7 linked regions of the Homo sapiens genome follow. The protein of the gene in region 1 interacts with the protein of each later gene in a pairwise test. Each region holds a gene or a part of one and is shown in the gene's direction. Other genes may lie near its edges.

What was found.
Region 2: the proteins of AGTRAP (region 1) and KIR2DL3 interact in binary tests that used the Homo sapiens proteins (3 or more experiments, as listed by UniProt).
Region 3: the proteins of AGTRAP (region 1) and GABARAPL2 interact in binary tests that used the Homo sapiens proteins (3 or more experiments, as listed by UniProt).
Region 4: the proteins of AGTRAP (region 1) and MCEE interact in binary tests that used the Homo sapiens proteins (3 or more experiments, as listed by UniProt).
Region 5: the proteins of AGTRAP (region 1) and FARS2 interact in binary tests that used the Homo sapiens proteins (3 or more experiments, as listed by UniProt).
Region 6: the proteins of AGTRAP (region 1) and PTPN9 interact in binary tests that used the Homo sapiens proteins (3 or more experiments, as listed by UniProt).
Region 7: the proteins of AGTRAP (region 1) and HSFX1 interact in binary tests that used the Homo sapiens proteins (3 or more experiments, as listed by UniProt).

What each region holds. Positions count from the first base shown.
Region 1 is NC_000001.11:11,742,636-11,746,135, forward strand, and holds part of AGTRAP (type-1 angiotensin II receptor-associated protein), read left to right. Parts: intron 1-1,897; coding exon of another isoform or gene 1,898-1,933; intron 1,934-3,167; coding exon 3,168-3,202; intron 3,203-3,491; coding exon of another isoform or gene 3,492-3,500. UniProt on the Homo sapiens protein: Appears to be a negative regulator of type-1 angiotensin II receptor-mediated signaling by regulating receptor internalization as well as mechanism of receptor desensitization such as phosphorylation.
Region 2 is NC_000019.10:54,737,204-54,741,312, forward strand, and holds the start of KIR2DL3 (killer cell immunoglobulin-like receptor 2DL3 precursor), read left to right. Parts: upstream 1-1,309; 5' UTR 1,310-1,342; coding exon 1,343-1,376; intron 1,377-2,303; coding exon 2,304-2,339; intron 2,340-4,109. UniProt on the Homo sapiens protein: Receptor on natural killer (NK) cells for HLA-C alleles (HLA-Cw1, HLA-Cw3 and HLA-Cw7). Inhibits the activity of NK cells thus preventing cell lysis.
Region 3 is NC_000016.10:75,572,879-75,576,378, forward strand, and holds part of GABARAPL2 (gamma-aminobutyric acid receptor-associated protein-like 2), read left to right. Parts: intron 1-3,500. UniProt on the Homo sapiens protein: Ubiquitin-like modifier involved in intra-Golgi traffic. Modulates intra-Golgi transport through coupling between NSF activity and SNAREs activation. It first stimulates the ATPase activity of NSF which in turn stimulates the association with GOSR1.
Region 4 is NC_000002.12:71,120,230-71,123,729, reverse strand, and holds part of MCEE (methylmalonyl-CoA epimerase, mitochondrial precursor), read left to right. Parts: intron 1-3,500. UniProt on the Homo sapiens protein: Methylmalonyl-CoA epimerase involved in propionyl-CoA metabolism.
Region 5 is NC_000006.12:5,362,513-5,366,012, forward strand, and holds part of FARS2 (phenylalanine--tRNA ligase, mitochondrial), read left to right. Parts: intron 1-3,500. UniProt on the Homo sapiens protein: Is responsible for the charging of tRNA(Phe) with phenylalanine in mitochondrial translation.
Region 6 is NC_000015.10:75,523,816-75,527,315, reverse strand, and holds part of PTPN9 (tyrosine-protein phosphatase non-receptor type 9), read left to right. Parts: intron 1-54; coding exon 55-198; intron 199-3,017; coding exon 3,018-3,107; intron 3,108-3,500. UniProt on the Homo sapiens protein: Protein-tyrosine phosphatase that could participate in the transfer of hydrophobic ligands or in functions of the Golgi apparatus.
Region 7 is NC_000023.11:149,772,863-149,776,867, forward strand, and holds HSFX1 (heat shock transcription factor, X-linked), read left to right. Parts: upstream 1-1,205; 5' UTR 1,206-1,819; coding exon 1,820-2,383; intron 2,384-3,220; coding exon 3,221-3,928; 3' UTR 3,929-4,005.

The sequences.
Region 1 (3,500 bases):
TTCTCCCACCTCAGCCTCCCAGGTAGCTGGGGCTATAGATGTACTCCACCATACCTGGCTAATTTTTTGATTTTTTGTAGAGATAGGATCTTACTTTGTTAGCCAGGTTGTTCTCGAACTCCTGGGCTCAAGCAGTCTTCTCCCTCCACCTCCTAAAGTGTTGGGATTACAGGCGTGAGCCACCAGACCTGGCCCACAGTTCTTTTTTGCAGGTGGTGAGGGCTCCTTCTGCCCTTCCACCCAGGCCAGAAACCCCGGCCTTCTTCGCAAACCTTGCCCATGTCTGCGCCAGGACACTGCCTCTGCCCCAGGCATGTGGCATCTCTCCCTTCCAGCCTGACCCCTCAATCCCTTGAGTAAACTTCTAGGGCCCTCATTGACCACCAGGCCCGTTGAAGCTCCCAATTTGGGGCTCCTGGCCTCCCAAAGTCTCTGTGCCACCCCACCCCGACCTCAGTTATCTCCATGCCCACCGCCACCCATGCAGGGCCTGGGGCTTGGCCCCACTTTGCCTGGCCGAGCCCCGCTCATACATTGTGCTCAGCCTGGGTCCCTTCCCTTTGGAAGCTCTTTCTGCAGCTGCCTGCCCTCCCAAGGCATCTGTCTTTTCTTTTCTTTTTTTTTTTTTGAGATGGAGTCTCACTCTGTCACCCAAGCTGGAGTGCTGTGGCCCATTTTGGGCTCACTGCAACCTCTGCCTCCCAGGTTCAAGTAATTTTCGTGCCTCAACTTCCGGAGTAGCTGGGATTACAGGTGCCCACCACCATGCCCAGCTAATTTTTGTCTTTTTAGTAGAGACAGGGTTTCGCCATGTTAGCCAGGCTGGTCTCGAACTCCTGACCTCAAGTGATCCACCTGCCTTGGCCTCCCACAGTGCTGGGATTACAGGGGTGAGCCACCGCGCCCAGCCCATCTGCCCTTTTTCTTTCTTTCCTTTTTTTTTTTTTTGAGGCGGAGGTTTGTTCTTGTTGTCCAGGCTGGAGTACAATGGCGCGATCTCGGCCCACTGCAACCTCTGCCTCCTGGGTTCAAGCGATTCTCCTGCCTCAGCCTTCTGAGTGGCTGGGATTACAGGCATGTGCCACCATGCCCGGCTAATTTTGTATTTTTAGTAGAAACGGGGTTTCTCCATGCTGGTCAGGCTGATCTCGAACTCCCGACCTCAGGTGATCTGCCCACCTCAGCCTCCCAAAGTTCTGGGATTACAGGCGTGAGCCACTGTGCCCAGCCTCCATCTGCCCTTTTTCTATGTGCTTTCCAGTCAGGGCCTTGTTGATGTCCCGGAGTAGAGACCAGTTCCAGGAGAGGAGGCTGTCATTTTAAGGACACAGAGGACATTAAAAAGGGTAAAATATTGTAGCTGGGTGCAGTGGCTCCTGCCTGTAATCCCAGCACTTTGGGAGACCAAGGTGGGTAGATTGCTTGAGCCCAGGAATTTGAGACTAGCCTGGTTAACATAGGGAGACCTTGTCTCTACAAAAAAACAAAAATTAGCTGGGCGTGGTGGTACACACCTGTAGTCCCAGCTACTGGGGAGGCTGAAGCAGGAGGATCACTTAAGCCCAGGAGTTTGAGGCTGCAGTGAGCTGTGATGGCGCCACTGAACTCCAGCCTGACCCACAGAGCAAGACCCTGTCTCCAAATTTAAAAAGAAAAAAGTAGAATATTGCAGAAATCCAGAAAAATAGCCAGGGGGATTTTGTTGTTGTTTTTCCTTACCATAAGGCATACCAAGCTATCTCCCTGTAGAAAAGTCTCAGTGGTGTCCCTCGTTGCACTTGGCATGAAGCCCACGCTCCTTCCCGAGGCCCTCAGGCCCCCCTACCTGTCCCCAGCTACCCTCCCTTTGCCCGCTCTCTCCAGCCACAACAGCTGCTTTCCCCTCTGCCCCCCACAGTGCGCCAGCTCCAGTGTCCCAAGAAATCACCCTCACGTGAGTCCCCACCGCTCCGCTTCCCATCGAGGCCTCTTCTGATTTCAGAGCAGATTCCCTGCATTCCACAAAGGAGCCTCCCACCCTTGTGTTACAGGAAAGGGGTCCCAATCCAGACCCCAAGAGAGGGTTCTTGGATCTCGCACAAGGAAGAATTCAGGGCGAGTCCATAGAGTAAAGTGAAAGCAAGTTTATTAAGAAAGTAAAGGAATAAAAGAATGGCTACTCCATAGGCAGAGCATCCCTGAGGGCTGCTGGTTGCCCTTTTTAAAAAAATTAATTAATTAATTAATTTACTTATTTTTGAGATGGAGTTTCTCTCGTCGCCCAGGCTGGAGTGCAATGGCACAATCTCGGCTCCCTGCAACCTCCACCTCCCAGGTTCAAGCAATTCTCCTGTCTCAGCCTCCTGAGTAGCTGGGATTACAGGCACACACCACCATGCCCGGCTAATTTTTGTATTTTTAGTAGAGACAGGGTTTCACCATGTTGGCCAGGCTGGTCCTGAACTCCTGACCTCAGGTGATCCACCCACCTCGGCCTCCCAAAATGCTGGGATTACAGGTGTGATCCACCGCGCCCAGGCTGGTTGCCCATTTTTATAGTTATTTCTTGATAGTATGCTAACCAAGGGGTGGATTATTCATGCCTCCCCTTTTTAGACAATATAGGGTAACTTTCTGACGTTGCCATGGCATTTGTAAACTGTCATAGTGCTGGTGGGAGTGTAGCAGTGAGGACAACCAGAGGTTACTCTCGTGGCCATCTTGATTTGGGTGGGTTTTAGCCGGCTTCTTTACTGTAACCCGTTTTGTCAGCAAGGTCTTTATGACCTGTACCTTGTGCTGACCTCCTGTCTCATCCTGTGACTTAGAATGCCTTAACCATCTGGGAATGCAGCCCACTAGGTTTCAGCCTTATTTTACCCAGCTCCTATTCAAGATGGAATTGCTCTGGTTCATACGCCTCTGACGCTTGGAAGGGGTGTGGGTGTCAGCTGCCCCATGGGAGGGGTGAAGGCATGAAGCGGCCCCTCCCTGGCCTGGCCTGCTTTCTTCCTCCTCCTTCACTCCTGGGCCACCTGCAGTTGCTGGTGTGCCTTTTCAACAGACATTACTGAGGCCCTCAGAGGTGCCAGGCGCAGGGGCGTCCTGTGTTTTCTGCACCCGACGCTTTCCTGCCCCTGTGGTGGTCATGTTCACAGACCTCTTCTCTCCCCCTTGTTGTGCCACAGGTGATTCTCCTAGGTCACTGGCTGCTGACAACCTGGTAAGTGACTCTGTGGGTATCTTGTGTGTCTCCTGCGGTCTCAGGGTCTGTGTCAGCCGGGTCAGGTCCTGGTTCTGCCGTGTTTTAACCAGGTCACTTTGGGCCAGACAGCTCTGCCTCTCCGGGTCTTGATTTCCGTCTGTACAATAGGCATAAGGATTGCACACCCTGCAGGAGCTGGGAGGGAGACGTGGAAGTGCTCATCAGAGCTCCCCAGGGCCTGCCCCACAGTGAGGCCTCAGCACTGCAGCTTGATTTTCACCTTTACCATCTCTTTTAATCTGTTGAGCTTCTGGAG
Region 2 (4,109 bases), on another chromosome or scaffold:
TGCTATTTTTTTTTTTTTTTTGAGACAGTCTCACTCTCTCACCCAGGCTGGAGTGCAGTGGCGTGATCTCAACTCACTGCAACCTCCGCCTTCCAGGTTCAAGCGATTCTCTTCCCTCAGCCTCCCCAGTAGCCTCCCCTAGGATTACAGGCACGTGCCACCATGCACAGATAAATTTTTTTGTGTGTATATTTTTAGTAGAGATGGGGTTTCAGAATGTTGGACCAGCTGGTCTTGAACTCCTGACCTTGTGATCTACCCAGCTCAGCCTCCCAAAGTGCTGGGATTACAGGCGTGAGCCACGGTGCCCAGCTTCACTATGCCATTTCATGCAAGGGGCTTGAGCATCTGCAGATTTTGGTATCTGAATGGGGATCCTGGAACCAATCACCCAGGTATAGTGAAGGACCATGGTATATAATTTTTATTTGTCAATCTTAAAAATAAAGCATAAAAAATTTACAACAACAAGATAAAAAATAAGAAGTGTTTTTATAGTGTGAGGATAAGTTTAGATTTATTTTTTCCTACGTGTAACCCTATGGTCCTGTGTTATTTGTTGAGAAAATATTCTATTCCACCTTAAACTACATGGCAGCCTTTGTCAACTATAAAGGGACTGTGTATCCACAGATGTATTTTAGACACAGTTTTCTGTCCAGTGGTTCTCTGTATCCCCTCTCATGAGGATGCTGCATTTTATATAAACTTATAGAACCCCTTAAAATTTGGTAACCTGAGTCCTCTGATTTGTTATTATAGGTTATTTAGTTTGCTTTTTTTTTTTTTCTTGAGACAGACTCTTCCTCTGTCACCCAAGCTGGAGTTCAGTGGCTTGAGCTCAGCTCACTGCAACCTCCGTCTCCCAGGTTCAAGCTATTCTGATGCCTCTGGTTTAGTAGTAGAAACTCAAGCAGGAAAATTAGAATGGCTTCTTGTCACAATTACTCTGATAATGTTAATAATACCTGTTAGACATTTTGCACATTACATATGAAGAAGAGTTTGAATCTCAGATAAAAACAAAAATACATCAAAAATCTTTAATGTAAGCACAGAATTCAATCATCTCGTGTATGAGAGGTTGGATCTGAGACGTCTTTTGAGTCTGGTCGTAGTGAAGGACGCAAGGTGTCAATTCTAGTGAGAACAATTTCCAGGAAGCCATGTTCCGCTCTTGAGCGAGCACCCACTGGGCCTCATGCAAGGTAGAAAGAGCCTGCGTACGTCACCCTCCCATGATGTGGTCAACATGTAAACTGCATGGGCAGGGCGCCAAATAACATCCTGTGCGCTGCTGAGCTGAGCTGGGGCGCGGCCGCCTGTCTGCACAGACAGCACCATGTCGCTCATGGTCGTCAGCATGGTGTGTGTTGGTGAGTCCTGGAAGGGCATCGAGGGAGGGAGTGCGGGGATGGAGATCGGGGCCCAGAGTTGGAGATATAGGCCTGGAAGTGGAGTTATGGGCCTAGAGATGGAGTGATGGGCCTAGAAGTGGAGATCTGGGCCTGGAGTGGAGATCTGGGCCTGGAGTGGAGATATGGGCCTGGAGGTTGAGATATGGGCCTGCAGTAGAGATATGGGCTTGTAGTGGAGACATGGGCCTGGAGATGGAGATATGGGCCTGGAGATGGAGATATGGGCCTGCAGTAGAGATAGGGGCCTGGAGTGGAGATATGGGCCTGGAGTGGAGATATGGGCCTGGAGTGGAGATATGGGCCTGGAGGTGGAGATATGGGCCTGGAGGTGGAGATATGGGCCTGGAGTGGAGATATGGGTCTGGAGGTGGAGATACGGGCCTGCAGTAGAGATATGGGCCTGGAGTGGAGATATGGGCCAGGAGTGGAGTTATGGGCCTAGAGGTGGATATCTGGGCCTGGAGTGGAGATATGGGCCTAGGAAGGAGATATGGGCCTGGGTGTGGAGATATGGGACTGGAGAGGTGATATGGGCCTGGAGTGGAGATATGGGCTTAGGGTGGAGATCTGGGCCTGGGGCGGAGATATGGGACTGGATTGGAGATAGGGGCCTAGGGTGGAGATCTGAGCCTGGATTGGCGATATGGGCCTAGGGTGGAAATATCAGCCTGGAGTGGAGATATGGGCTTGGGGTGGGGATATGGGCCTGGAAACTGGGTCTCTGCACAGCCGACAGCCCTGTTCTTGGGTGCAGGTAGGCACTGAGGGTGAGTTTAACTTCAGCCCAGGAAGGGCCTGGCTGCCAAGACTCACAGCCCAGTGGGGGCAGCAAGGGAGGCCTGGTTTGCCTGCAGATGGATGGTCCATCATGATCTTTCTTTCCAGGGTTCTTCTTGCTGCAGGGGGCCTGGCCACATGAGGGTGAGTCCTTCTCCAAACCTTCGGGTGTCATCTCCCCACATAAGAGGATTTTCCTGAAACAGGAGGGAAGTCCTGTCGGGGAGTCTCTCATAAACTAGGAAGAGAGGACCCTGGGGTGCTCAGCCCACATTTCTGACCTCGCCTCCCTGGCCTCTCAACCCCTTGGCAGAGTCAAGTTCTGTGGGGACCAGGGTTAGACTGGGGTGCTCAAAGCTGGGGTGTGTGGTTGGGAAGTGGTAGGAACAGCAGATCCTCTGAGGACAAAGGTGTTACTCACACACTTCAGCGTTTCCATGATGGTAGGGGCTGCAGTGTGGCTGCTGTCATTCTACCAGAAGAGGTGGGAAACCACAGCCATGGCCCTGACATTCCAAATCCTCTGATGGGGGCTCAGTTGTTTATTTTCGTTCAGGCATCCGCTGATATCCATTCACAAAGGACATGCCCTCCACCTCATGTCTACCCTGTGTTGTTTTATGTGAGTAATCTTACAGTATTAAAATCTAGTAGGAGTCTCTTTACTCAGCACTTGCTCAAAGTTCTCAGCTGAGGCTTTTGTTGTAGGGAGACACCATGTCTTTGCGGGATGGGTCCTTCCTTCAGCCCTGGGCACCAAGGTGTGATAGTAGCCATAGAAACGTGGAAAGCGAGGAGAATCTTCTGAGCACAGGGAGGGAAGGGCAGTTCCACATCCTCCTCTCTAAGGCGGCGCCTCCTTCTCCCCAAGGTGGTCAGGACAAGCCCTTGCTGTCTGCCTGGCCCAGCCTTGTGGTGCCTCTAGGACATGTCATTCTTCGGTGTCACTCTTATCTTGGGTTTAACAACTTCAGTCTGTAAAAGGAAGGTGGGGTGCCTGTCCCTGAGCTCTACAACAGAATATTCTGGAACAGCCTTTTCATGGGCCCTGTGACCCCCGCACACACAGGGACATACAGATGTCGGGGTTCACACACACACTCCCCCAGTGGGTGGTCAGCACCCAGCAACCCCCTGGTGATCGTGGTCATAGGTCAGAGGGCTCCTGTCTTGGATTCTCCTTGTCCCACCTCCTGAATCCCAGAGCTTCTGTTGGGCATGTCCTTGAGGGTCCCATCACGCAGGCCCTGACTGTATTTGTGGTAAAGGGGGATTGAATACAGGGAAATGGGTGCTGTGGTGGGAAGAATAATTGTCCCCAGTGATGACTACATTCTAATCCCTGGAGTCTGTGACTATTTATGTTATAGGGGAAGGGACTGAAGGGGAAGATGGAGCTCATGGGGAGACAGCCTGGACTGTCCCACTGGGCTCAGTGTAATCACAAGGGTGCACATGAAAGGAGGAGGAAGAGGGGAGTGGGGATTAGAGCAGTCCAGTGGAAGTCTTCACCAGCTTTGAAGGTGGAGGAAGGCCAAGATCCATGAATGCAGGTGGCCTATAGAGGCTGGAAAAGTCAAGGAACTGATTCTCCAGAGTCTCCAGAGGGAACAAAGCCCTGCAGATGCCTTGATTTTAGCCCAGGAAAAATAGGGTCCAATTTCTGTCTCCAGTACTGGAAGGTGTCAGTGTGGTCTCTCCTGCTGCCATGCTTCTGATAATTTTCTACAGCAGCAACAGGAAACCAACACTGGAACCCAGGTCAAGGACAAGTTAAGAAACAACCCAAGGAAAGCCAGGCATGGTGGCAGGTGCATGTAATCCTAGCGACTCAGGAGGCTGAGGGCAGGAGAATCACTTGAACCCAGGAGACAGAGGTTGCAGTGAGCCTAGACCACACCACTTCACTCCAGC
Region 3 (3,500 bases), on another chromosome or scaffold:
GGTGTGCATTCGTGTTAGGGACTGGAGGCCATCTTCAGGTGTTCTCTACAGCCACCTCCCAGCAACTTAGGCAGCAAGCCTTGGAGCTGCAGTGCTACTTGCGAGTTGTCAGGGCATCCAGCAAGCCTGTGCAGCTTAGCTGGATAGATGCATTAGAGCTGCCTCTGTGCTGCAGGATCCTCAGGCATCCTAGCAGTGGCCTGCTCAGTGCTGTGTATAGCTCAGGCCTCCAAATTCTGAGGGGGAAGTTTAACTTCTCAGAGGTTTATGGAATGTGTCCCAAACTGACACACCAGCCTTCTGCTAATAGACTCTCTGCTAGCAAGGGTCACATTTTGTCTCCCTGCACTTCCATTTGCATATCCATTTAATGGGACTTTACAAAAATGAGTTAATTTTTTTTAAGTCTGTTTGTGGCCCAGCTCATTTTGGCTGCAGGCCAAATTATTCTGACTCTGCATGTATGCAGTCAGATCCCGTAAGTGCTGTTTTCAAATCAGTCTTGCTTCATGGCACCCAGTGAAGCCTCAAAATTAGGTGCATGTTCAGCATTGAGCATTCAGTTACCAAGTTCCTTGCCCAAGGGGTATCCTGACTATAAGGACACAGTGCTACTGCCAACTAAGTTTCCACATGAGGTTGTGTGTCAGAAAAGGAGAAATTGTTGGATTCTTAAGTTCTTACGCACTGAGGCATCTAACTGTCAAATTACAAGATGGGAAGGAGAGAGCCCTAAGACCTTGCTACTCAGCATGTGATGCAGAGACTGGCAGCAGTCGCCTTACCTGGGAGCTTGATGTTCCGATGGTTGGTACCAACATTTGTATGAGAAGCACTGTTCTAAGGAAGATCTCTGCAGAAGGTACAAGGACTCTAATGTTAGGTCATCAGAGCAGATCTAGCTGTCTAATCACTTGGAGGCAGCAAAGCTTGGTGGTCTCCTAGTTTTGTGACCTGGAGTGAATTTAGAATCTCTGTGCCTCAGTTTTCCTATCTAGGAACTATGGATTATGGTACCATCTACCTCATGAGATTGTTTTGAGGATAAAGAGTTAATACATGTAATGTATAAGCAGTGCTTGGCACATGTGTTGCCATTATAGTTAGGATTTTTACTATCAGCTTCTGTAGCTACTAGGGCACTGCTTAAACAAATTAATGAACCCAAGTTTTACTTAAAAGACAATGGAATCTAAAGCCAGAAAGGAATGAAAGCCACATGATTGTGGGCCTCCTGTCCTGCCAAGAGTCAGGGCTCAGAGTCTCACGACCTGCCTTCAACAGTAGCGGTCCAGTGGTTATTGTTCACCCTGGATAGCATACACAGGCCCGGGGGTGGGCTGCTGGTGTTTACGAAGCTCTTCAAATGTTTCTAATGTAGCAGCGGGATTTAGAATCATTGTACTAGGGCTTCTAACTTGCTAGGAAAAGAGCAGAACTTAGTCTGTTTGGAACCAAACTTGACAGAGACACTATGGGGCGACTCTGAATTGCACACAATGTCTGCTACTGCATCTAAACCCATCTGGTAGTGGCAGCGGGGAGATGTTACGACAGTTGTCATCAAGATCACCCTGGACACTTGGACAAATGGGGTAAAGAGTTGTGGCAGTAGCTGTAGTTGTTTTCCCATTAGCCTCATTCTGAGGAGTTTCAGAGAAAAATGGGGTTACTCTCTGGGCATTCTCAACCACCAGGGTAAAAATCTTGGGAGACTCAGCTACATGTTCAAGCCCTTCTGCTAGTTTCTGGCTTGTCATTTCACTTCCTGGCTTGTCACTCTACTTCCTAATCACATAGCTTTTAAAGATGACCCTCCCTTCTCCCCCCCAACAAAAGGTCAGGCATTTCCCTTTGCAACCTGGCTGCATATGGAATCATTTTTGGCATTTAAAAATATACTGATGAGGCCGGACACGGTGGCTCACCTGAGGTCAGGAGTTCAAGACCAGCCTGGCCAACATGGTGAAATCCCACCTCTACTAAAAACAAAAACAAAAACAAATTAGCCAGGCGTGGTGGCATGCACCTGTAATCCCAGCTACTTGGGAGGCTAAGACATGAGACTTGTTTGAACCGGAAGGTGGAGGTTGCAGTGAACCGAGATCCTGCTACTGTACTCCAGCCCAAGCGACAGAGCAAGACTCTGTCTTTACAAAACAAAACAAAACATAGTGATGATTTCATTGGTCTGGGGTAGGGCTTGGGCACAGAGATGTTTTTAAAGCTCTCTTTAAAGTAAGATTCTGATGTGCAGCCAAGGCTGAGACCCACGGCTGCAGGCGTTGTTCCTCCCTCTACCCACTGCCCCCTAAGTCTTGTTCTGGGGCAGTGCTGTCAGTAGAAATGGATGCAAGCCACATATGTAATTTAAGAATTTTCTAGTAGCCACATTAAAAAAATAAAAACAGTTGAAATTAATTTTTTTTTTTTTGAGACAGAGTTTTGCTCTTGTTGCCCAGGCTGCAGTACAATGGCACGATCTTGGCTCACTGCAACCTCCACCTCCCAGGTTAAAGCGATTCTCCGGCCTCAGCTTCCCGAGTAGCTGGGATGACAGGCGTGCACTACCATGCCTGGATACTTTTTTTGACAGAGTCTCGCTCTGTCGCCCAGGCTGGAGTGCAGTGGCACGATCTCGGCTCACTGCAAGCTCCGCCTCCCAGGCTCACGCCATTCTCCTGCCTCAGCCTCCTGAATAGCTGGGACCACAGGTGCCCGCCACCACGCCCAGCTAATTTTTTGTATTTTTTAGTAGAGACGGGGTTTCACCGTTGTTAGCCAGGATGGTCTCAATCTCCTGACCTTGTGATCCACCCGCCTCGGCCTCCCAAACTGCTGGGATTACAGGTGTGAGCCACCGCGCCCGGCTTACTTTTGTATTTTTAGTAGAGACAGGGTTTCACTATGTTGGTCAGGCTGGTCTTGAACTCCCGACCTCAGGTGATCCACTTAATATATTTTATTTGACCCAGTATATCCATAATTTTATCATTTCAACATGTAATCAAAATTGAGCTATTTTGCTGCATTTTCATACTAAGTCTGAAGCCTTGTTTATGTTTTACACTGCACATCCCAATTCACACGAGCCAGACTTTCAAGTGCTGAATGTAGCTAGTGGCTGCTGTGGCAGTGATACAGGACATTTCAATCAGAGCAGAGATTTCTATTGAACAGTTCTGTTCCAGGGAGTCCTTATTTTACAAATTCCAGGCTAAGAGGTCCTCACAGGGAGCACCGTTTTTATTGTACAAGATGCTGATGACAGGTTCTTTCATATTCAAATTCAGACCTCCCCCACATTGTTACTTAATAATTCTCATCTACCCACACAGCCATCCGAGCTAAGCTTGCAAATGGGGCAGGAAGAACAGGAAAAAAACTCAAAACCTCCCCCTTCATAAATGTGGTATTTGTCCATGTTTACATGGAGGTTCCACTCAGCCCTTGAGGAGCAAAGCAGCAAGTGGGGCAGTCACTGTTTCCTCAGGTTGAGG
Region 4 (3,500 bases), on another chromosome or scaffold:
TAAGATCTTCTGAATTGCACCTGCCAACAATTTTTAAAGGAATGTGAAGAAATGTTAGACAAGAAAAGTCCATTAGAGAACATTTCTATAGATGTTCATGTTCAGATAACTGCCTTTTAGAATATCAGCAATGACAATTATGCATCGATTTAATTTGCTAGGACAATTCTTTTTATAGAAAGAATGACATAATTGTTAAGCCAAATTTCTTTTTCTTTTCTTTTTTTTTTTTTTTTTGAGACGGAGTCTTACTCTGTCGCCCAGGCTGAAGTGCAGTGTGGCGTGATCTCGGCTCACTGCAACCTCTGCCTCCTGGGTTCAAGTGATTCTCCTGCCTCAGCCTACCAGGTAGCTGGGATTACAGGCATGCGCCACCATGCCCGGCTAATTGTGTATTTTTAGTAGAGATGAGGTTTCACCATGTTGGTCAGGCTGGTCTCAAACTCCTGACCTCAGGTGATTCACCTACGTCAGCCTCTCAAAGTGCTGGGATTATAGGCGTGAGCCACCTTGCCTGGCCTGTTAGGCCAAATTTCTAATACAGAGGAGAGGTCATTTGATTCTAGAGTGAATTCAAGGATGTATTCAGTTCATTATTGCAAACATGTATGAGACCCTATAATGTGTATTCTGCCAAGTACTTGGGATTTAGCAGTGAATAAGACATGAGTCATGTCCATAGTGAGGAGGGTCAGAAATTTAAACACCCAAGTGCAATATACTATGATAAGTAGAATTGATATATGTGACTTTGCAGTAGCACAGATGAAGGAGATTGATTGCTCCTGGCAGATTGAGTTGCTGGGAAGGCCTCACAGAGCATAAGTTACAATGAATGTGAAGGAATTCCCTAGGTGAACAAAAGGAGAAAGTTATTTCAGGCAGAGGGAATTGCATGTGGAAAGGCATAGAGTTATCATAACAGCTAACACTTAGTGGCTGGGTGTGGTGGCTTATGCCTCGACATGGCTTGGCTGTGTCCCCACCCAAATCTCATCTTGAATTCCCACATGTTGTGGGAGGGACCAGTGGGAGGTAATTGAATCATGGGGGCAGGTCTTTCCGTGCTGTTCTTGTGATAGTGAATAAGTTTCACAAGATCTGACAGTTTTATAAGGGGGATTTTCCCTGCCCAATCTGTCTCTCTTTGCCTGCTGCCATCCATGTAAGATGTGACTTGCTCCTCCTTGCCTTCTGCCATGAGTGTGAGGCCTCCCCAGCCACGTGGAACTGTAAATCATTAAACCTGTTTCTTTTGTAAATTGCCCAGTCTCGGGTATGTCTTTATCAATAGCGTGAAAATGGACTAATACACACCTGTAATCTTAGCACTTTGGGAGGCCAAGGTGGGCAGATTGCTCGAGCCCAGGAGTTTGAGACCAGCCTGGGCCAAATGGCAAAACCGTGTCTCTACTAAAAATACAAAAAGCTAGTCAGGTGTGGTGGTATGCACCTGTAGTCCCAGCTACTTGGGAGGCTGATGTGGGAGCATCACTTGAGCCCAGGAAGTGCTGAGGTGGAGGTTGTAGTGAGCCGTGATCACACCACTGCACTCTAGCCTGAATGAAAGAGCGAGACCCTGTCTCAAAAAAAAGAACTAACATTTAGTGAGTCCTCTAGTAGTATGTCTACAAAGTAACTCAACACATACTATTTTCTTGAATTTTCATAGCTACCCTGTGAGGGCCCTATTATCCCCATTTGACAGGAAAGGAAACTGAGACAGAGTAGTTAATTTGCCCATGGTCATATCAATAGCAGGTATGGGGCTGAATCCCAGATTGGTTCTGATTCCAGGGTCTGCACTCTTACCCATGATGCCAGTTGCCTTCATTATATTAACTGAGTTTTAAATTTGCGGTGGGGAAGCTATAAGACCTTAAGCAGGGAACTAAACAAGTCCTAATATTAGCCTTTATTTTATTTTTAGGGAGTTACTTTTGGCTGCAGGTCTTTGTCAGTGGACCTGAGTGTTTGTCTAAGCCCTACCCCACCCCCCAGGATGAGAAGCAGGACCTTTGAATCCACTCCCCCCTCTCCCACACTGCACTATCAGTATTCCATCAAGAGAGCCCATGCTTTCAAAGGAGTTCAGCTATGTGATTTAGTTCAGTTAAGTAAGGAATAGTGGAAGTTCAGTAATGGCAGATTCAAAAGCAGAGATTATAAGGGGGACATGCAAATGTATTGGATATAAAATGAAGGTAGGTAAGAGGAGAAGGTGTGAACAGTGGTTAGTTAGGTGCTATTTTAGTATAATACCCCCATCATCATTCTCTGCCCTCCACAAAAAAATTAAGTGGCTTAACAAGATTTTATTTTTCTGTTTTCAGTCTAATATTAGCTATCCCAGGCTGATGGGCAGCTCTGCTGTCCATGACACATGACTTACAAGGTTGCTCCAGGCATCACCATTTGCCAGCCAGAGGGAAGGGAAGGGAAGGTGGAGTGGGAATACCTGGCAAGTGGCTTTAAGGAGATGCTCTAGGATCACTTCTGTCCTTATCCCATTGGCCCAAGCTTAGTTACATGACACACTTCTCTGCAAGGGAGGCTGGGGAATGTAGTCTCTAGCTAGGCAGTTATGTGCCCTGCTGAAGCTTGGGGGTTGCTGTAATTAAAAGGAGGAAAAGGAGAAAGGTACTGGAGGCCATCAATGGATGCCACGCTTGGTGATTTTTAAAAAGTGGTGTGTCACCTGGGCATGGTGGCTCATGCTTATTACAGCACTTTGGGAGGCCGAGGTGGGCAGATTGCCTGAGCTCAGGAGTTTGAGACCAGCCTGGGCAACACGGTGAAACCCCATCTCTACTAAAATACAAAAATTAGCTGGACGTGGCGGCGCACACCTGTAATTCCAGCTACTTGGGAGGCTGAGGCAGGAGAATCGTTTGAACCTGGGAGGCAGAGGTTGCAGTGAGCCAAGATCATGCCACTTCACTCCAGCCTGGGCAACAGAGCAAGACTCCATCTCAGGAAAAAAAAAAAAAATGTTGAACCACTCATCAGAGAATTGGCTTTCCCCTCTGTAATCACAGGGCTACTTTCTGTCCTTTTTCACCAGGATCTTATAAAACCTCTGACTTAGCATATATCTGTTGGTGCATGCTCCATGGTTTTTGTTGACTCACTTGACGAAATGTTCCTTTCTCACATGTGGATTACGATCTCAATAGTTAATTAGCATTTTTCTGTCGAGGTTGAGTTGGTTTCTACTTTTTCTTGTGAGGTTTACTCATATTTCTTGTGTGTCTTTGCCTCTCACTAGAGGAATTTTAGAGGGCATCTTGTCCCATCTCTTCTCTTGCTCAAGTATGGACTGAATCACCCACTGTTTTCTGGCACAGCTTGTGTTTGTGCTCCTAACTGCTGCCTGCGATGGCAAGAGGGGGGTCACCTTCCCTGCCTTCTGCGTGCCTCTGCTTGAGGAGACAAAGCTGGCCGTGCTTTCTCTGGAGAACTTAGCCAGACAGCACAGTGTGTCACAGTGAAGACTTTAA
Region 5 (3,500 bases), on another chromosome or scaffold:
CCATTGTGAATAATGCTGCAGTGAACAAGGGGGTGCAGATGTCTCTTTGACATGCTGATTTCATTTCCTGTGTTATATACACAGAAGTGGGATTGCTGGATCATATGTTAATAGTTCTATTTTTAAATTTTTTTGAACCTCCATACTATTTCCCATAATGGTTATACTCCTCTAAATTCCCACCAACAGTGTACAGTGGTTCCTTTTTCTCCACATCCTCACCAACACTTACCTTTTCTTTTTGGTAATAGCGGTTCTAACAGGTGTAAAGTGTATCTATCTCATTGTGCTTTTGATTTGCATTTCTCTGATGACTAGTGATTTTGAGGATTTTTTTTCACATACCTATTGACCATTTATATGTCTTCTTTTCAGAAATCTTTATTCAGATCCTTTGCCCATTTTTCTTTCTTTCTTTTTTTTTTTTTTTTTGACATGGAGTCTCACTCTGTCGCCCAGGCTGGAGTGCAGTGGCGCGATCTCGGCCCACTGCAAGCTCTGCCTCCTGGGTTCACACCATTCTCCTGCCTCAGCCTCCCAAGTAGCTGGGACTACAGGTGCCCGCCACCATGCTTGGCTAATTTTTTATATTTTTAGTAGAGATGGGGTTTCACCGTGTTAGCCAGGATGGTCTCGTTCTCCTGCCCTCATGCTCCACCCACCTCGGCCTCCCAAAGTGCTGGGATTACAGGCATGAGCCACCTCGCCCAGCCCCTTTGCCCATTTTTAAGTTATTTGCTTTCTTGCTGTTGAGTTGCGTGAGTTCCTTATGTATTTTGGACATTAGCTTTTTCCCAGATACATGGCTTGTAAATACTTTTTCCCATTCTGTGAGTTGTCTCTTCACTCTATTGAGTTTTTAAATAGTTCTTTACTGCCCCTTCCAAAGAGGCAGCCTTCTTTGTTTTGTTTTTGCTGACCAATTTCCTTCCATTCTTTTCTTTTTCTTCCTATTTCTCTTCTTCCCGCGTCTTCCACCCAGCATCACATGTAGTGCTAGATTATGGGCATACGATGATAAATATAAGAGAGAGAGGAGAGAAAGAGTATGTGTATATATATGTGTTTGTGTGTTCTACTCTCAAGAACCACACAGGCTAGTAGGAATACAGACAACAGCAGGTAGTAATAATACGGCATGCTAAACATTGCACATTGAGTGGTATTTGGGTCCAGGAAACAGGCCCGTTTCCTTCTAGATGTCTTTTCCCCTGACTTCTGTGCTGTGGCACCCTTTACGTCCCCTCTGTCTTACTCCTTACATCCCCTTCCCTTAAATATGATAAGTTCCAAGTATTCTTCTATCTTTTGCCCACTTATATCTTGCTCTTAGCCTCCCATGGATTCTTATATACGCTTGTGATATTAACTCTTACGTCTATGCAAATTACCTCCAAGGTCTACATTTCCAGGATTAATGTCTTACCTCATTTCCAAACTATAATATAACTCGAATTGCCTTACAGAAATTGTAATGTGGCTATCTCATTCATACTGAACTTCCATTGTCCAAATCTGTTTCCCTCTACAAAAGATGATCTGAACAAACAACAAAAATCCATTCTGAGTTCTCTGTGTCAGTGAATGACTTTATTAGTTCATCCGTTACCCGATCTCTAGAAATCTCTGGGTCACTTTTAACCCTGAATTCAGCTCATCTTACCCGTTACACACTGGGCAATGAGTTAATTAGCTGATGAACATGATCTAGTATAATCTTTTCATTATGAGATAAGTATTATATTTCTCTGTTTTACAGATGAGAACCTTGAGGCCAGAAGGGTCAAATAACGTTTCTAAGGATGATACATGGCACCTAAGAGATCAACCTAGGATCAAACCAACATTAGTATCTCTGCGAAGTCTGGCCTATTGCCCATTATATTGTATTTTCTCTTCTTATAGTTGGTCTGATTGTTTCTTTTGTACCAGTGCTAACATACTTCACGTCCACATTTGTATTCTTGCTCCTTTTTTGTGACTTTATAATCTACATATATTTGTGACTAGGAAGATTTTATTAATAGTGTAGAAAAATTTTTCAGTAGGTTAAGCTAAAACAGGGCTCAGCAAACTCTATAACAGACCAGAGAGTGAGTATTTAGGCTTTGTGAGCAACACAATCTCTATAGCAGCTATTCAATCTTACCTTGATAGCAAGAAAGCCATGGCAAATGATAAATCAAGAAATGGCTGTTGCTGTGTTCCAACAAACTTTATTTGTAAAAACAGACTATGGGCAAGGCACGATGGCTTAAGCCTGTAATCCCAGCACTTTGGGAGGCTGAGGTGGGCAGCTCACTTGAGGCAGGAGTTTGAGACCAGCCTGGGCAATGTGGCGAAACCTCATCTCTACAAAAAATACAAAAGCTAGCCGGGCATAGTGGCTTGCACCTGTAGTCCTAGCTATCTCTGGGGCAGGGAGCCACTGGAGCCTGAGACAGGAGGATCACTTGAGTCTGGGAGGTTGATGCTCCAGTAAGCCATGATCATCCCACTGCACTCCAGCCTGGGTGACAGAGTAAGACCCTGTCTCAGAAACAAAAAAAAGCCAAAGCCAAAAAAAAAAACCCCAAACAGACTACTGTGGGCAGATTTGGCCCTTGGGTCTGTAAATACTTATTTCATTTTTACTATCTAAGCTAATGTGTTTTATTGGATTTACTTATTCATGCATTTATTTATGTATTTAAAAACACATTGATGTATAATCTCAATTAGATAAAATAGAAGTTAAGGGAGGTCCTTGCAGAGATACCATTTGAACTTAACAATCTTGGACCTTTGATTGAGAAGTATACTTTCTTTTTTTTTTTTTTTTTTTTTTTTTTTTTAGTGAGGCAGAGTCTCACTCTGTCACCCAAGCTGGAGTGCAGTGGTGCAATCCTGGCTTACTGAAGCCTGAACTCCTGGGTTCATGCAGTCCTCCTGCCTTAGCTCCCCAGTAGCTGGGACTGCAGGTGTGTGCCACCATACCCGGCTAATTTATTAAATAAAATTTTTTTTTTTTTTTTTTTTTTGTAGAGATAGGGTCTTGTCATGTTGCCCAGGCTGCTCTCAAACTCCTGGGCCCAAGTGATCCTTTCGCCTTGGCCTTCCAGAGTGTTAGGATCATAGGCGTGAGCCACCACACCCTACTGAGAAATGCACTTGACCCCTGGACAACTGATTACCCTCCCTCAGTCAGTTGAAAATTCCTGTATACCTTTTGACTTCCCCTAACTTAACTATTAATTGTTAACTGGAGGCTTTACTGATAACATAAACAATTGATTAACACATATTTTGTATGTTATAGGCATTATATACTGTATTACAATAAACTAGAGAAAAGAAAATGTTATTAAGAAAATCATGAGGAAAGAAAATGTATTTACTATTTATTAAGTGGAAGTAGATCATCCTAAAGATCTTTATTCTTATCTTCATGTTGAGTAGGCTGAAGAGGAAGAGGAGGGGTTGGTCTTGCCTTCTCAGGGGTGGCAGAGGTAGAAGAGATA
Region 6 (3,500 bases), on another chromosome or scaffold:
CTCCATAAATATGCTCTCTTCTTACTAATTATTCTTTCTTTCTTTGTCAAACAGGCTACCAAGCAGTTTCTCGAAGAGATTAACAAGTGGACAGTTCAGTACAATGTTTCCCCGCTGTCTTGGAATGTGGCTGTCAAGTTCCTCATGGCAAGGAAGTTTGATGTGCTCCGTGCCATAGAATTGTTCCACTCCTACAGAGTATGTGGCTCAGGGGTAGACCAGACCTGTGGCAGTTGGGTTAAGTGTTGCTGTTGTCCCTGTCATGCTCGACACACACATTGGTTCTCTAAGTGTTCCTCCTCACTTTCATAAAAAATGGATCCATATCCAGGAGCCCTTGTGAGAGCTGAAGCTGGGCAAGGCAGCTACTGGAAGGCACTACTTTTGTACCTAAGTTTTGATCGTAGACCAGGATGCCACATCTAATGATTGAGACGGAGGAAGTAGCCTGACAGCATCCTGGTGGCAGGATAGGGGTTCACCCTTCCTAGAGTTTTAATCCTAGCTCTTTTCATTGGCCTCTGGCCACATGAAAATCTTGGTTTTCAGGTTGTCTAAGGCTTTTAGAAACTTGCCATTCAGATGAATGATGAGCTTAGTGGGCAGTTCAGGAAGGGAAGTTTTAACACTGGAAAAGAAGAGCAACTGTGTATTAGCTAGGTCCATTATCTTAAAGTATCTTTATGCAAATGTAGCGGCATCAGGATTTTACTTTGTTTTGATTTTTGTTTTTTGAGGGGGCATAGACTTTGGTTTTGTGCTTGTTTGCTTTCTCAGTTAGTAGTGTCTTTGATAAAACACTATACAGCATGTTACTTTGGGGTCAGAATCCTTCTAAAGAAATACAAAATCTCCCTAAAAAAAAAAATTGGGATAACAAGCACTAGGATTAGCTTAACTGAAGTTTGGTTACATCTGTCTTGTGGACCAGCTCATTCAATATTCATTCATTTACTCAACAGATACTTATTTTATACTTACTGTGTTCCAGGTGCAGAGATTACTATTTAGAAAGAGAGACTAGGGCTGGGTGCGGTGGCTCATGCCTGTAATCTCAGCACTTTGGGAGGCCAAGGCAGGTGGATCACTTGAGGTCAGGAGTTTGAGACCAGCCTGAACAAAATGGCAAAACCGCATCTCTACTAAAACTACAAAAATTAGCTGGGTGTAGTGGCACCTGTATTCCCAGCTACTCGGGAGGCTGAGGAGGGACAATCACTTGAACCAAGGAGGTGGAGGTTGCAGTGAGCCGAGATCACACCATTGCATTCCAGTCTGGGCAACAGAGTGAGACTGTTTAAAAAAAAAAAAAAGAAAGAGAAAATAAACAAAGAGTTGTAGAAATGTTATGATAAGGCAGCACTGGATTCTGTGGAAGCACTTTTTTTTTTGAGACAGAGTCTTGCTGTGTCTCCCAGACTGAAGTGAAGTGGCATGATCTCAGCTCACTGCAGATCTCTGCCTCCTGAGCTCAAGTGATCCTCCCACCTCACCTTAGCCTCCCGAGTAGCTGGGACCACAGGCATGCACCACCATACCTGGCTAATTTTTTGTATTTTTAGTAGAGACGGGGTTTTGCTATGTTGCCCAGGCTGGTCTCGAACTCCTGAGCTCAAGTGATCCACGCACCTCGGCCTCCCAAAGTACTGGGATTACAGGCATGAGCCACCGTGCCCAGCCTAAGAGGTTTAAAACAAGCGGTTGATGAAATAAGACAAACCAAGATAATATTTTTTTGTTATCGGTATATAAAGGTAGAGAATGTCTCCGGAAAAAGGAAGTGTAGGTGGTCAACCTTGTCATTTAAGAGGAGAACTGAAGAGGCTGGGCGCGGTGGCTCATGCCTGTAATCCCAGCACTTTGGGAGGCCGAGGCGGGTGGATCGCTTCAGCCCAGGAGTTGGAGACCAGCCTGGGCAACATGGCAAAACCCCGTCTCTACTAAAAACACAAAAATTAGCCAGGCATGGTGGCACGTGCCTGTAATCCCAGCTACTCAGGAGGCTGAGGCAAGAGAATCTCTTGGACGTGGAGGTTGCAGTGAGCCAAGATCATGCCACTGCACTCCAGCCTCAGCAACAGTGTGAGACTTGGTCTCAATTAAAAAAAAAAAAAGAATCTGGCCATCAGGGTGAGGAAAATGAAGTCATGGTAGCTGCTGTTGGAGACAATATCAGGTGGAGAGAAGGCTCCTATTTAAACATAGGAGAGGCCTAAACCTAGAAAATATGTGAGAACGTAGGCATCCAGACATTTTTGAGGTCCATATTTTAGTGTCCTGGTACCATGTCAGTGCTGCTGCGTGTTTAAGAACCTTGATCCTGCACCTGAATGTAACATACTGGTTACTCTTCAGGGTTAGGGTTCTTACTGAGTCAGAGAAAAATACCCTACCTGAGGGGCTGATAAAGTAGCTTTGGACAGGAATTCCGAAAATGCTTGACTGGCTTGGAGGCAGGTTACAAAGAAATTCATAATTCATTTAGTTGACTTCATTATTCATTTAGCTGAATTCTTTTTTTTTTTTTTTTTTTTTTTTGAGACAGAGTCTCATTTTGTCACCCAGGCTGGAGTGCAGTGGTGCTGTCTTGGCTTACTGCAACCTCCACCTTCTGGGTTCAAGCGATTCTCCTGCCTCAGCCTCCTGAGTAGCTGGGATTATGGGCGCGCACCACCATGCCAGGCTAATTTTTGTATTTTTAGCCGAGACAAGGTTTCACCATGTTGGCCAGGCTGCTCTCGAACTCCTGACCTCAGGTGACCTGCCCGCCTTGGCCTCTCAAAGTGGTGGGATTACAGGCGTGGGCCACTGCGCCCGGCCCATTTAATTGAATTCTAATTCAACTAAATGAAGTAGAATTGGTTATGAAATTAGTTACAAAATTTATTTAGTTATGAAATTTATAATTCATTCATTCATTGATAACCACCTTATCTCTGAGATTTGGTGGTTACATGGTGCTGTCCTGGATATACAGTATTTTCATATTAATACATTTTGCTGTGCTTCCTTTTTAGGAAACTCGAAGGAAGGAAGGCATTGTAAAGCTGAAACCTCATGAGGAACCTCTTCGTTCTGAGATCCTCAGTGGAAAATTCACCATCTTAGTGAGTGTTTAGGGACCTATCTTGTAGGGCCTTATTACTTCCTTTTTTAACTGGTGTCCTGTTTGGACTTTGTTTTTTTTTTTTTTTTTTTAATTTTATTATTATTATACTTTAAGTTTTAGGGTACATGTGCACAACGTGCAGGTTTGTTACATATGTATACATGTGCCTTGTTGGTGTGCTGCACCCATTAACTCGTCATTTAGCATTAGGTATATCTCTTAATGCTATCCCTCCTCCATCCCCCCCTGTTTGGACTTTGTTCCTATATACCTTATCCTGAATCTAGAGAGTCTCCACAGTTAGGAGCAGATGTGAAACAGCCATGCAGTTTGGTATAAAATTATTTTAGTAACAATTGAATTACTAATAGTTTCTAGTAATTAGAGTTAC
Region 7 (4,005 bases), on another chromosome or scaffold:
CAGGAAACTGGAGTGGTCCTCTCAGCCAGCCTCAGAGGAAAGAAATCTCTAGCTGGCACAGGCAGCCAGTGAGTGAGGCTGGCGGCTGCAGGGGCACAGCCTTTAGAATGAGTCCTTCAGTGCACAGGTCCCAGGGTATACGGGGTAGTGGGAGGAAGGAGGGGACGCCTCGCAGATGCCACTGTTGGCTGGGCTACACCTTGCCACACTTGTTACTGCTTAGGAGGCTTTCTGGAGTGTTCCTTGGGTGCTACGACAATCTGCAGCAGACACTGTCCTTTCACCGCTCCTGGTCCTCGTTTGCTCCCCAGTGATGTCAACAGCTGAGGACTGCTCACGCTGCAACAAAAGGCTCTGCAGTCGCTGTCTAGCTTGCCCTAGTCGTCTCTAGAGTTCTGCCTGAACTGAAACTCAAGTGGGGTTCAGCTCATGACTTGTGGCAATTGACCAGGAAATTCACCAGTTGCTGTGGCTGGAAGGATTTTCAGTCCTGTGGGTTGTAACCAGAGGCCACAGGTGGATTCTGCCTTAGGCTCATGAGATTTCCGACTTGCTGTTGAAGAAAATGCCTTGTGAAGTGACAACAGTAGCTCTGACCCAACTGCCGGTGCCTCGCTAGTTCCTATACGTCCCACTGGATCCTCACAGCCCCGGGAAGCAGGTGCTACTACTCTTATCCCCGGGAGGAGACAGAGGCCGAGAGAGGTTAAGTGACGTGCCCAAGTCACACAGCTCGGCAGCGGCCGGGTTGAGCATCAGCAGTCTGTTTGCAGACCCCTCACTGTCACCCCCTGAGCCAGTGCGCCTTGGGCCCTGCGGTCAGGATGTCTCAAGCGTGGAGGCATCACCGGTTCGTGGCAGTCTCTGGAAGGTCACTGAGCTCTGTGCCCAGAATCGAGTCGGGGGAGTCTGTGCAGAGGTGGCCCTGTGTGTGGGGACAGTGTGTGACACAGACACTGCTTTGGATGGACACCTCTCCCGTGACCTCCTAGCATCCAATCCCAAAGGAACAACTGTTGCAGAGATGGACCGCTGGACACAAACCCACGTGCGTTTCTCTGGAGACACTGGCCAAGGAAAACAAAACATGCTCGAAGGCCAACAGCTGCATGCCCCACCGCGATGTGACCGCAGACACCCGGGGTGTAGAAGGGTCTCTGCCTGGTGGGGGGACACGTGCAGGCCGAGGAGAGGCAGGAAGGAGGCTGCCTCCGACTCCCCACTGGACTGCATGGCGACGGCGTGTGGTGGGGCAGTCAGCTAAGCCATTTGCCTAAGGGGCTGTCGGGCATCTGCGTGCTGGGGACCGACAGTGTGGGTGTGTTAGGAGGATCTGTATGGAGCACATTGCTGCCTCTGGCTAGGACAGGGTGGAAAGGGTGGCGTGGCTACAGCCTGACCCATGGGCACCGTCCTACCCTTTGTTCTGTGCTTCCGAGTGTCAGTCATGTGCTGGGGTCTGTGGGCCCATGACTCAGACGGTGAGCTCTGACCTTCCTGAGCCAGGGCTTTGCTGTAGTTGTGCCTGGCTCAGGAGCTCTAGGACAAGGGGACCGCTCCAGGTCTGCATCTACGGTGTGGCAGGGCCCCTCGGCACTCTTGTGCACTAGTGTCATCTTTCCCATTGAAATGACTGTGAGGACCAGAATGTGCACATGCAGATGGGCAGCTACTTGTCTGCCTTGGCCCTTTATTACACAACTTGCTGGGGGTGGAGATGCCACCCCCCGGCAGTCAGAGCCCCTTTATGATGTCATGGGGCTGGTTACATGACTGCCAAGGGGTGCTGCTGGCCACACTGCACTAGCAAGTTTGCCAGATGGAGGACAAGCGATCATTGAGTATGGCTCGCTGTGAAGAAAGAAATTCGAGAGGACAGGATCATGGCTTGGAAAGGGTGCCTTTCCCTCCCCAGTTGCAGTCAGAGACCTACCTTCACCCAGCAGATCCTTCCCCTGCCTGGGACGACCCGGGGTCCACTGGGAGCCCTAACTTGAGGCTGCTGACAGAAGAAATCGCTTTCCAACCTCTGGCCGAGGAAGCTTCGTTCAGAAGGCCGCACCCTGACGGTGACGTCCCGCCCCAGGGAGAAGATAATCTCCTCTCCCTCCCCTTTCCACAGAAACTGTGGAGACTGGTCAGCAGCAACCAGTTTTCGTCCATCTGGTGGGATGACAGTGGGGCTTGTAGAGTGATCAATCAAAAACTCTTTGAAAAGGAGATTCTCAAAAGGGACGTCGCACACAAAGTGTTTGCCACAACTTCGATAAAGAGCTTCTTCCGCCAGCTAAACTTGTATGGCTTCCGAAAACGGCGTCAATGCACTTTCAGGACCTTCACCCGCATTTTCTCCGCAAAAAGGCTGGTCTCCATCTTGAATAAGGTAATGAACGACAAGCCTCTGGAGGGGTTAAGTCGGTGGGCTCTGGGGCCTGGTCGGGTGGAAGTCCCAGGACTGCCTCCTGGGAAGTGGGCGACCTCAGGCAGGGTGTGGGGCCATCGCTGTGGGCCTGTGTCCCCCTCTGGGTGGAGGTGACATGAACTAAGAGTGAATGTGGGGAGAGGGCTGAGGATGGTGCGGGCCCCTCTCGAGTGTGTAAAATATCACAGGTGCCAAGTAGCCGTATCTGCGTGTCGTCCTCCCCGGGGCCAGCCATGTCATCTGGCGGTTGCTGTGTCCCCCTGACTCCACAGCACATTACCCTGTGAGGTGAGCAGGCCAGGGGAGTCTGGTATTTGTACCACTGTCACCCTAGCTGGTGTCTGGAGAGGTGCTCAAGTGGAAGCACTGAAGGGCGCCTGGCGCAGGAGGTGCAGATGCTCCTGCTGCCCTTGGTAGGTGGGCCCCTGGTGTGGAAGAGCCAGTACCCAGGGCCTCCAACCCAGCCGGGGTGCATTCTGTTGCCAGCTGACACTGCATGGGGGAGGCCCAGAATCTTCTTCCCTCCTGGTCTGCAACTTCAAAGACCCTTTCCGCCGGCCATGGACACCCTAATCTGCCATTTTGAGGCTTTTTCCAAGACGGAAAGGCCCGCCACAACTTGGTAAACCTTGACGATGTGAACGCGAGTCCCCAGCTTCCTTTGGGGACTGGGACCTTTTCCAGAAAGGCCTCCTGGGCCAGTAGAGTTCTCTTGCACAGGGGCGTAGATGGTTGGTAGTTGTAGTCCATCCTTGTGACTTGCAGTTTCCTTTTGTTTATTTAAACTTTGACTTATAGTTAGAGTTCTACTGCCATCCTTACTTTCAAAGAGACTCCCCTCACCTCCTCGTGAGGATGAAGAGAAGAGTGGGTGTCAAGTCTGCACCAAGACATCAGGAGGAGGACAAGCCAGAAGCTGCTGGATCCTGTCTGGCACCAGCAGACACTGAGCAACAAGATCACACGTCTCCGAATGAGAATGACCAGGTCACACCGCAACACCGGGAACCGGCCGGTCCCAACACCCAAATCAGGAGTGGCTCTGCTCCACCAGCAACTCCTGTGATGGTGCCTGATTCCGCCGTGGCGAGTGACAACAGTCCAGTGACCCAGCCGGCCGGCGAGTGGTCAGAGGGCAGCCAGGCTCACGTCACTCCGGTGGCCGCTGTCCCTGGGCCTGCAGCGCTGCCCTTCCTCTATGTCCCTGGATCTCCCACTCAGATGAATTCTTACGGGCCTGTGGTGGCCCTTCCCACAGCGTCCCGTAGTACCCTTGCCATGGACACCACAGGACTTCCTGCACCTGGCATGCTGCCCTTTTGCCATCTCTGGGTACCGGTGACCCTAGTGGCTGCTGGGGCTGCACAGCCTGCTGCCTCCATGGTCATGTTCCCCCATCTCCCAGCTCTGCACCACCATTGCCCCCACAGCCACCGCACGTCACAGTACATGCCAGCTAGCGATGGGCCCCAGGCGTACCCAGACTACGCAGACCAGAGCACATAGAGGGCAGCATTTGGGCAGAATATGTGCTGGTCAATAAATGTGTCAGAAAATGAGTAATTTTCTGACTGCACAAAAAA